2 linked regions of the Homo sapiens genome follow. The protein of the gene in region 2 purifies or fractionates together with the protein of the main gene of each other region. This does not show direct contact. Each region holds a gene or a part of one and is shown on either strand. Other genes may lie near its edges.

Region 1 (3,817 bases), on a different chromosome or scaffold from region 2:
AGGGAGAAATTCTAGGCTAGAAGATCATCTTCATCATGTTTTTTGGAGAAGCCCCAGTTTAGTAATACCATTAGCTGAAAACTATTTTTAATTCAGACATTAGCAACTGGCATAAAACCCTACTTTCCACTTCTCTTGATTTTGCACTGACAATTTGGCAGCCCACTCTACCCTTAGGCCCAAAAGAGCCATCACATTTGTAAGTCTGTATTTAGGAGATTCTGACAGAGATGTATGCAAGAGGAAAGGTCAACAAATGCCCACAGGAGGATCAACATTCTAGAAAAGATGTAAGAACCGCCCCAAACCGCCATCTCACTCATAATCAAAAATATTTCAATGGCTCTAAATTACCGTTGTGCAGAAACCAGCTTAGCAAAAATAAGAAGAGCTGACACTTTTATGGCCATTGGCTGTACGGAACCGGGACATCCAATACATTCCTGATGGGAGGGCAAAATGGTTCAATCTTTCCGGAGGGGTACTACAGAGCACTGTGATTCAGCAGTCCCACTTCTGGGAATCAATCCTTAAGTACACCTTCACAAAGCAAAATGATTTATTACATCTTTATTCATCACAGCACTGTTTGTAATAGCAAAAGACTGGGAAACAGCCCAAAGGTCCAGCAGTAGAGATTGGTCAAATAAACCATGGTACATCCACATGATGGAAAACTTGTTATTCTGTGTGTGTGTGAGAAAGAGATACTTGCAGAGACAGATGTCTAAAACATACCACTAATTTTAAAAGGTAAGGTAAAGAAGAGTATATACACCACCTTTAATGAGAGAAGGGGGGAGAATTAAAATACCATATATTCTTATTTGCTTGTGTTTACAAGTTGCTACTTGCAGAGAATATGGGAAAGGCATGGATGGGGATAAGATGGGAGCAAGGTTTTTGAATTTGAAAACTTTTGATTTTTGTGAATTTGCTATTTAAAGAAATCCTGGGGCTGGGCACGGTGGATCAGGCCTGTAATCCTAGCACTTTGGGAGGCTGAGGCTGGCAGATTGCTTGAGTCTAGGAGTTCGAGACCAGCCTGGGCAACATGGTAAAACCCCATTTCTACAAAAAACACAAAAGTTTGCCAGGTGTGGTGGCAGGCACCTATAGTCCAAGCTATTCAGGAGGCTGAGGTGGGAGGATCACCTGAGCCAGGGAAGTCGATGCTGCAGTGAGCCATGATTGTGCCACTGCACTCCAGCCAGGATGACAGACTGAGATCCTGTCTCAAAAAAAAAAAAAAAAAAAGGAAGCAAGAAAAGAAAAGAAATCTTGTAGGGAATTCTTGTAAGAAATTGTCAAAAATGTTTACCTTTGTATATGGTTATAATGTTTCTTGAGGATCATATATTATATATTTTCAAAAATATTGAAGTTGTATAAGCAATTTTCCCAGAAGTGTGAAGAACAGGACAAGATTGGCATGGAAGAGATAAAGCTAAGGTGGAGTTCAACAGCTCAGGAGGAGGAGTCGAAGAAACCTGGGTTTAGGCAGGTAGGTTCTCATGTGAAAGTCAGTCAGAGAAATCTCAGTCCAGAATTCAGGAGGTAAGCACAGTGAGTGTGGAGAGGGTAATTTCTGCCCTGTGTTATATTACCTGCTGGATGTGGGTGGCTCTGAGCCCCCGGATATTTATTACAGCCATAGGAAGTCAGAGAACTGTAGGTGAATGGGAGGCAAAGATAGGAACACTAGGATTACCTTCTAGGCAGCCTGCCAGGAGCATTGATTTGCTCTTGGATAAAGCATGCTGCTCATCAAATATTTATGTTAAAAAAGAGGGCAAGGCATGTGCTGGAATATTCTGCTGAATTTGACAGAGATATTCCTTGAAAACTTGAGACTCCTGGAATTTTGTGTAATCAAATCATACTATAAACACAACAGGTGAATTTGCTATTTAAAGAAATTCTGTAAGAAATTCTTAGGAATTGTCATCTTCTGCTCTTTCTGCTTTGGGAATCTGAGTATGTCTGAAGATAGCTGCATTTAACCAGGTTAAATGTGAAAGGCATTCACGTTTCTGCATCTTTTAGTTTTTTTCACAAGGTGTATTGTCTCCAGAAAACAGCAGATGGCCTAGGTCCGAAGTATGAACCAGCACCTTGATCCTCAGGACCACTGCCTTAGCAGTTAGATTCACTAAACATGGCTGATCCTACAGGCTGTGCAAATGCCTCCCAGAAGAGGAGCCAGGAGAAGGAAGTTGATTCTGGCTACAGGCTTTCTAAAGGATCAACTTAAAAAAGCAAGAAAGTAGTACCAGTTGGTACTAAGGGGAACACAGACAAACTCTCTGAGTTTGTGGTACCTTTGATAACAAGACTCCGCACCTTTTAACCTAAACTAGAAGCCTTTTTCCAGAAGCAGCAGCTACTCATAGGTAAGTTCCAAAGGCTCCTGCAACCACTGTTACTTGCATCCTGTCCCCAAGGAAAAAGGCCTACGGCTGGTCAATAAATAACATGAATCCCTCTCCACGTTCCCAGGAGTTACTACTACTCCATTCCCTGCACCAGGCCAACTACACAACGGGTGCTGGTGACCCTGGCAAGTATTAGGCAATACTGAGCATGCTGGTGTTTAAGTAGCAATAAACAATGTCAACAGCACCCAAAGTGCTGGTCTTTACCTACCCCTCAGAAATAATGAATTGAAGAGAAAGAAACTCATCATAGGCAATGTGTACCACTGAATGTTTGTTTCCTAGCATATATAATCAGTATTACTTTTTTACATGTACCTTGCTGACATACCACAGAAAACATGGTTTTATTCCTTCATTCCACTGACATTCATGAAGTTTATATGTTTCCCAATAAAGCCTGACATGATAAACCAAATGGTTAAGTGACAGACTCTGCCAGCTGATGGCATCTAGAGGACTACTGTGGCTACAGGGGCTTTGAGAAGCAGAGCTGCTGGTAGCCATATTGTGCCTTTGTGTGTGTTAAAAAAAGGCATTCCTTCCATGTACACCTAGACTTTTGCAGGCTTGATAGCATCAGAAAGAAGTTCCCTTTTCTCCTAGCAGAGGCAATCCTACTCCAGGATGCATGTGGTTTTGTTTGTTTAGCAGATGTGAGCCTCCCATTTGCCTCCTTGCCCAGGCACTTTTGTGCAGTGAACAACCTGTATAACAGTTCAAGGTATCCCTGTCAAGAAGTCACAATCCATTCCTTCTGCTTCTTGGCCAGACATCCAACCCTCCCATGACAACTTATCTGCACAGCCAATCATGACCTTATATACCCACATGAAGCCCCATGGTCTAATGTGCAGGCCATGGTCTAATAATTCAGAAGATTTCATTAGTCTAGGCACAGCTCAGGCACCTAGTCTAAAGGTTACACCTTTCTAATTTGCCTGAGATTCTGGTTAAACTTGGTATGATGATGTTATCTCAATAAGGTCTTCAATAAGCCTCAATAAAGTCCAAGAGGCTTTTAGATTTTGATTCCTCTTTCCACCCTTAGATTTAGCTCATGTTGGGATTTAATGGATTTCAGTTTGAGTCTTCATTTGAGAAAAAACCTTATGTTTTTCCTCTGCAATAATTTATCCCCCCAAAACAACACAAAATTTGAGGTAACTGCAAGCTTGGGGTCTGAGTCAAAGGGTCCCAGTGGGGAGTTAAGGGTTTAGTGTCCAGTGGTCAAGGACGTCTTGGCTAGTGCCATCTGAAGCTAAATAAAAGCCTGATTATTTCACATCAATGAAGTTAAGATTCTGCCTCCAATGGGCTCATGTGAGTTTGCACAAAGCCATTCTGAATCAAGACAATTCTCTACACACAATGCAAGTGCA
Region 2 (4,596 bases):
CAAAAACTACATCAAAACACAGAACAAAAAACTCTGTCCATTTTTCCAAACTAACATCGTTTTTTGTTATTAAAAGAAAAATCTCGTTCTCTCTCTTTCTGCTGTGATGTGTGTGCATGTCTGGCTTGCACAGAAATGAGGACCTGAAGAGAGATGGGTGATGTACGATGCGGAATAAAATCCACTTTGTAAACATGTTCTTCATTCCATAATGGCATCCCCTTTGGTATTTACAGAAGATTTCTCCTTGTGTGTTTTACACAAGCATAAATATGACTAATGTGAATTTCCGCTCATTCGCCTTTTCTAGGTGGAATTGTGTAGCCCAGTAAACACAATAATAAAGAAGGCTTCCTAAAGACAAAGTGAGGATTTCTCAGTGTGCTTTTTATTAAAGGATGGAGAAAATCTTGCATTTGGCTACAGGCTGACATTTTCAAAAGCCTGCCCTAAGACAATGAAAAATATGTATCATACACATATTTTAAAAAATTTTTAAAAATTATAAATGTCATACATGCTACTTAAGAAAACACGGAACATTAAAAAATGAAAAATCTGATCATAGTTTCACTTTCAATTTATTGGTATATCCTTCTGCGCCAAGGTTTTTTGTTGTTGCTTAAACGTTTGCCGCCACTTATTCCCTCCCCACATTTTAAAAGGAAGATAATTTATGTAGAATTATGTAGAAAGTGAGGTATCAATTAGTAGGTTGGATTTATAAAGAACAGAAGAGGAGCCACACTGGCCTTTGGGGTAAAGCCAACCATATTAACTGTCCAGCCCTGTTGTCAGGTAGAGGAAGTATTCGTTTGAGGGAGATGTGAGCCTCCCTCATTGTGAAGATAGTTTTTGATCAATTATTCAATATATACAGGTTTGGAGTTCAGTATGTCTTCTAGAACTACTGGCGGCAGCTTCTTTCGTTGACGTGGGCTACAATGGTTGCTAAAACCTGCGTGCCAGAAGCCAGAGGTGGGGAGGCGCCATTTGCTAAACCGGAACTGGTTAAAATCTCAGGGTGGAGACCATTCCCAGTCAGCAAGGGCTTGGGAAGTGCATACAGTTCCTGCTCCTGGTGTCTACTCTGAAGAGCACAGAGTAGACGTTTGTCTGCCATTTCACCGGCAGTAAGATCAGCAGCTGCTGGTGAGCAAAGAGGTAGTAGTGGGTCACTGGACTGGTGGGCGCCGGGGCCGCGCGCTAGATGGAGAGGTCAGCGGCGAACCCAGCTCCATGGCCTAGTCTCGTCAGACCGAGCGCGGACCCTGCCGGCCTCCGTTCTCTTCCGCTTGTCTCAGGTAAAGCGCAGATCCCTCCGCCGCAGCGTGCGCTCCCGGTAGCGCTGCGATCAGCTTTTCGGCAATACCCGGATGGAAGTGTAATGGCCGCCATCAGGGACTCGCAGGCAATGGGTACTACGACAGGTATTCCCCGTCAGCGGGACTGCCCAGACCTTTTAGGATGTCAGAACTTCTAGAGGGCCACCCAGCAGGCAAACGGCGAGTTTGTGGACCGTCAGGGTCCCCCAAACAGGTCCAGGGATCCGCCTCTTGTGAGAGGAAGCGCGAGTTAAATAGTCCCGGCCATTCAGCGCTTCCGCTTAACTTGCCGCAAAGTTTTTCTGGAGAAGTCGGGGTTTTTTTGCCGAGCGCTTTTGCCGACTGCTAGAGCTTACCCTTACTTTCTTAACCTGGGGTTGTTTTACTTCCGGGCTTTTTGAACTCTACACTCTCCTACATTCTAGGAGCTGGGTGGGAGTAGGAGACGGTGTGCCTCCGCGCTCCCCGCGGGGCAGCCGAACCCCGGAGGAAGGGGCGGATCGGGCGCGGTGTTTGGGGCGAAGCTGGGCGCGCGGCGCTCGAAGCACTCACTCGGCGGGTTTCGTGGTTGGTGGAGACAGCAAGGGCGCCCCGCAGACCGCACCCCTCGAGCTATAGGTTCGCAGGCCCGACTCGACGGCGTCCCTATTGCTGGCCCAGCGTATGGTCATTGGGGGCCATTTCTTGCAGAGATGCCCTGCTCCCTGACGCGCTCGCTCTTCTCCAGAGTTGGCCAAAGGTGCTCTTCCCCGCAGACCCTAACCACACCCAGTGGCAGTTGGATTTCTTTGTAACTGGCTTTCTCACATGTAGGGTTCATTTTGACTCTATTCGTTACATGGTGTCCTCTTTGTCAAGTAGACAGTCTCTTCCTAGGTGGCTGTGGTAATTGAAAAGTACATAGAGCGAAATGTATATAAGGAAAAATGTTTTAACTCTTAAGTGGACCGATCAAACAGATGTAGCTTTAAAGTTCAGAATACAACAGTTAAGACTCAGTTTTCTTTTTAGGTTTAAATTTGAGAGCAAGTAGTGTATGTGAGCTGTTTTAGTGCAAACATTGTTGAGTATGTTGTCAAACGTCTAAAAAACCCTAGAAAAATAAAATAAGTCAATGTTCAAGGAATTCATAAGAATGTTGGAATTTGTACAGTTGTCGCAGTGATAAAACATGAAGACACCAAACTGTCAGGATAGGAATTCTATTAACTTGAAAGTGTGCATGTTAGATCTAGTTACTGGTAATTGTTGAATTGCTTTTTCTGCAGCAAGGGGTCTGATTTGAGTGTACTCTAAGGTTGATATCCTCAGGTTTAATTTAAAACATTTAAATTGATTCAGTGAAATTTCCTAACATTTTTTGAGTTTAACTGCAAATTTATAGAAATGCATTCACTATCTTTCAGCAAAATTGTCTTTTCTGAAATTTATAAAGAGACATTGCGTTCTGTTAACACTTTGAGGGTGTTGGGATTTCCTGGGGAAGGTAAGCATAGTAAACGATGTTGATTTTTGCCATAGAAACTGTAAATTAGATCATCCCTAGATACAGAAAATTGCCAACAAAAGGGGAGAATAAAATGTAGGTATGTTACACAACCAAATGTTTCCTGTTTGTTGCGTGAAAATAAGTATAATTACCAAATAAAACGTTTTATATCTGGTTTTATGGAAGGACAAAAGACAGTAACCACAATGAACACCCACTGTGTGCATTGATAATGTATGAACTTTTAAATGCTTCAATTTTTTGCCATGGTCACACTTCGGATTCTGTTCTAGTCTCTCTGGTAATAGTATGCTGTAATCCCAGAAGTTTCTATATTTTGAAATATTACAGAGGGACTATACTTTAGCCTAGATCTATAATTTGACTTCAGGATATGCTTTAAATGCCCTTTAAGTGTATTTTTGTTGTTTACTTTTCTGTTTATAGTTGTTTAGAATTGTTCTCATTGAGGCATTGTGACATTGCATACTTTAGAGCACTTAATACTACTTTTTTTTTTTTTCTTTAAATGATAGGAGACTTGAATCTTGCCCACATTCCTTCAGGTATGCTACTGAAGGTTTTGTGGCAAAGTGCTATTAGCAGAACAAAAAGGTTTTAACACCGTCTTGAAATTTTTATTTATTATCTGGTCCCAGGTGTGTAGGCTGTGAGTATTTCAGTTCTATATGGGGTATTGGCTTCTCATGGTGAGCAGTTTTCATGGCATATTAGATACCAGAAATGAGTATTAAGGGTTAGTATTGTGGTGGTAGGATAACTGAATTGGAACCGGATCCAGATATTATTTCTAGTTTTGTGACTTTGGGCAAGGCTCATTTTCTTTTTCTTGTAATAAATGAAGATACTGAGTTAGATTGATTCTAAGCTTTAGGTTGTGACTTTTGCAAATTTGTGACATGTTATCACTGGTCATCAATGATGTATGCTTAAGTGTATAGAAGTTTTTTCTTAGTTTTTTTTTTTTTTTTTTACATTTCTTTATACACCTAAGTTGAATGTGAAGTGTAATTGAACAGTTTTTGTCGTCAAAAGTTTTAAAATCTTGGTCTTCATTTCCAGATATCATCTCTTCTTTTGATCACTGTTCCTGATTGTGACATTGTGCAAGTGTTAAATTGTGTGCCTTTTGTTCCTGAAGAAAGAGGTATGGTAAAGATTGAAATACTGGAGTATATAGTCTATTAAGTAGTAAGTTGGTATGTTTTAATATTGGACTAAATAAAGTAAAATATAGGTTAAGTATCCCAAATCCAAAAATCCAGAATGCAAAATTTTTTGAGTGCTGACATGATGGTCAAAGGAAATGCTCTTTGGAACATTTTGGATTTTGAATTTTTGGATTTGAGATGCTCAACTGGTATAATGCAAATACTCTAAAATCCTAAAAAAGAAAAAGAAAAAAAGAATGAAACCCTTCTGTTCCCAAGCATTTCAAATAAGAGACACTCAACCTGTAGTTTTACATATACATGAGTTTTCATAAGTTATATAAGTTATAGTTTTATTTTATTTTTTGGCTAAAATAAAATACTTAAACATGAGTTTTCATTTTAATCTAAGCAAAAAAAGTAATTTTTGGTTTCATAGTTTATTACTTAACATTTTATTAGAAATCCAAATATAACTTTAACTATCATCCTTCTGAATAGAAAAGTGGCATTAAAGTCTTCTGGGTAATGAACAGTGGAGATAAAGGTGGTAGATAGATGTTTCAAAGCTATATGAATGGCCAGAAGATTGTGGTTTTGGTCTAGTAAG

Evidence for each region.
Region 1: the proteins of ZNF518A (region 2) and GNG12 purify together in Homo sapiens (affinity purification with mass spectrometry; one large-scale study listed by BioGRID and IntAct). This does not show direct contact.

The regions. Positions count from the first base shown.
Region 1 is NC_000001.11:67,823,272-67,827,088, forward strand, and holds part of GNG12 (guanine nucleotide-binding protein G(I)/G(S)/G(O) subunit gamma-12), read right to left. Parts: intron 1-3,817. UniProt on the Homo sapiens protein: Guanine nucleotide-binding proteins (G proteins) are involved as a modulator or transducer in various transmembrane signaling systems.
Region 2 is NC_000010.11:96,128,689-96,133,284, forward strand, and holds the start of ZNF518A (zinc finger protein 518A), read left to right. Parts: upstream 1-1,608; 5' UTR 1,609-2,064; exon of another isoform or gene 2,065-3,897; 5' UTR 3,898-3,982; exon of another isoform or gene 3,983-4,596.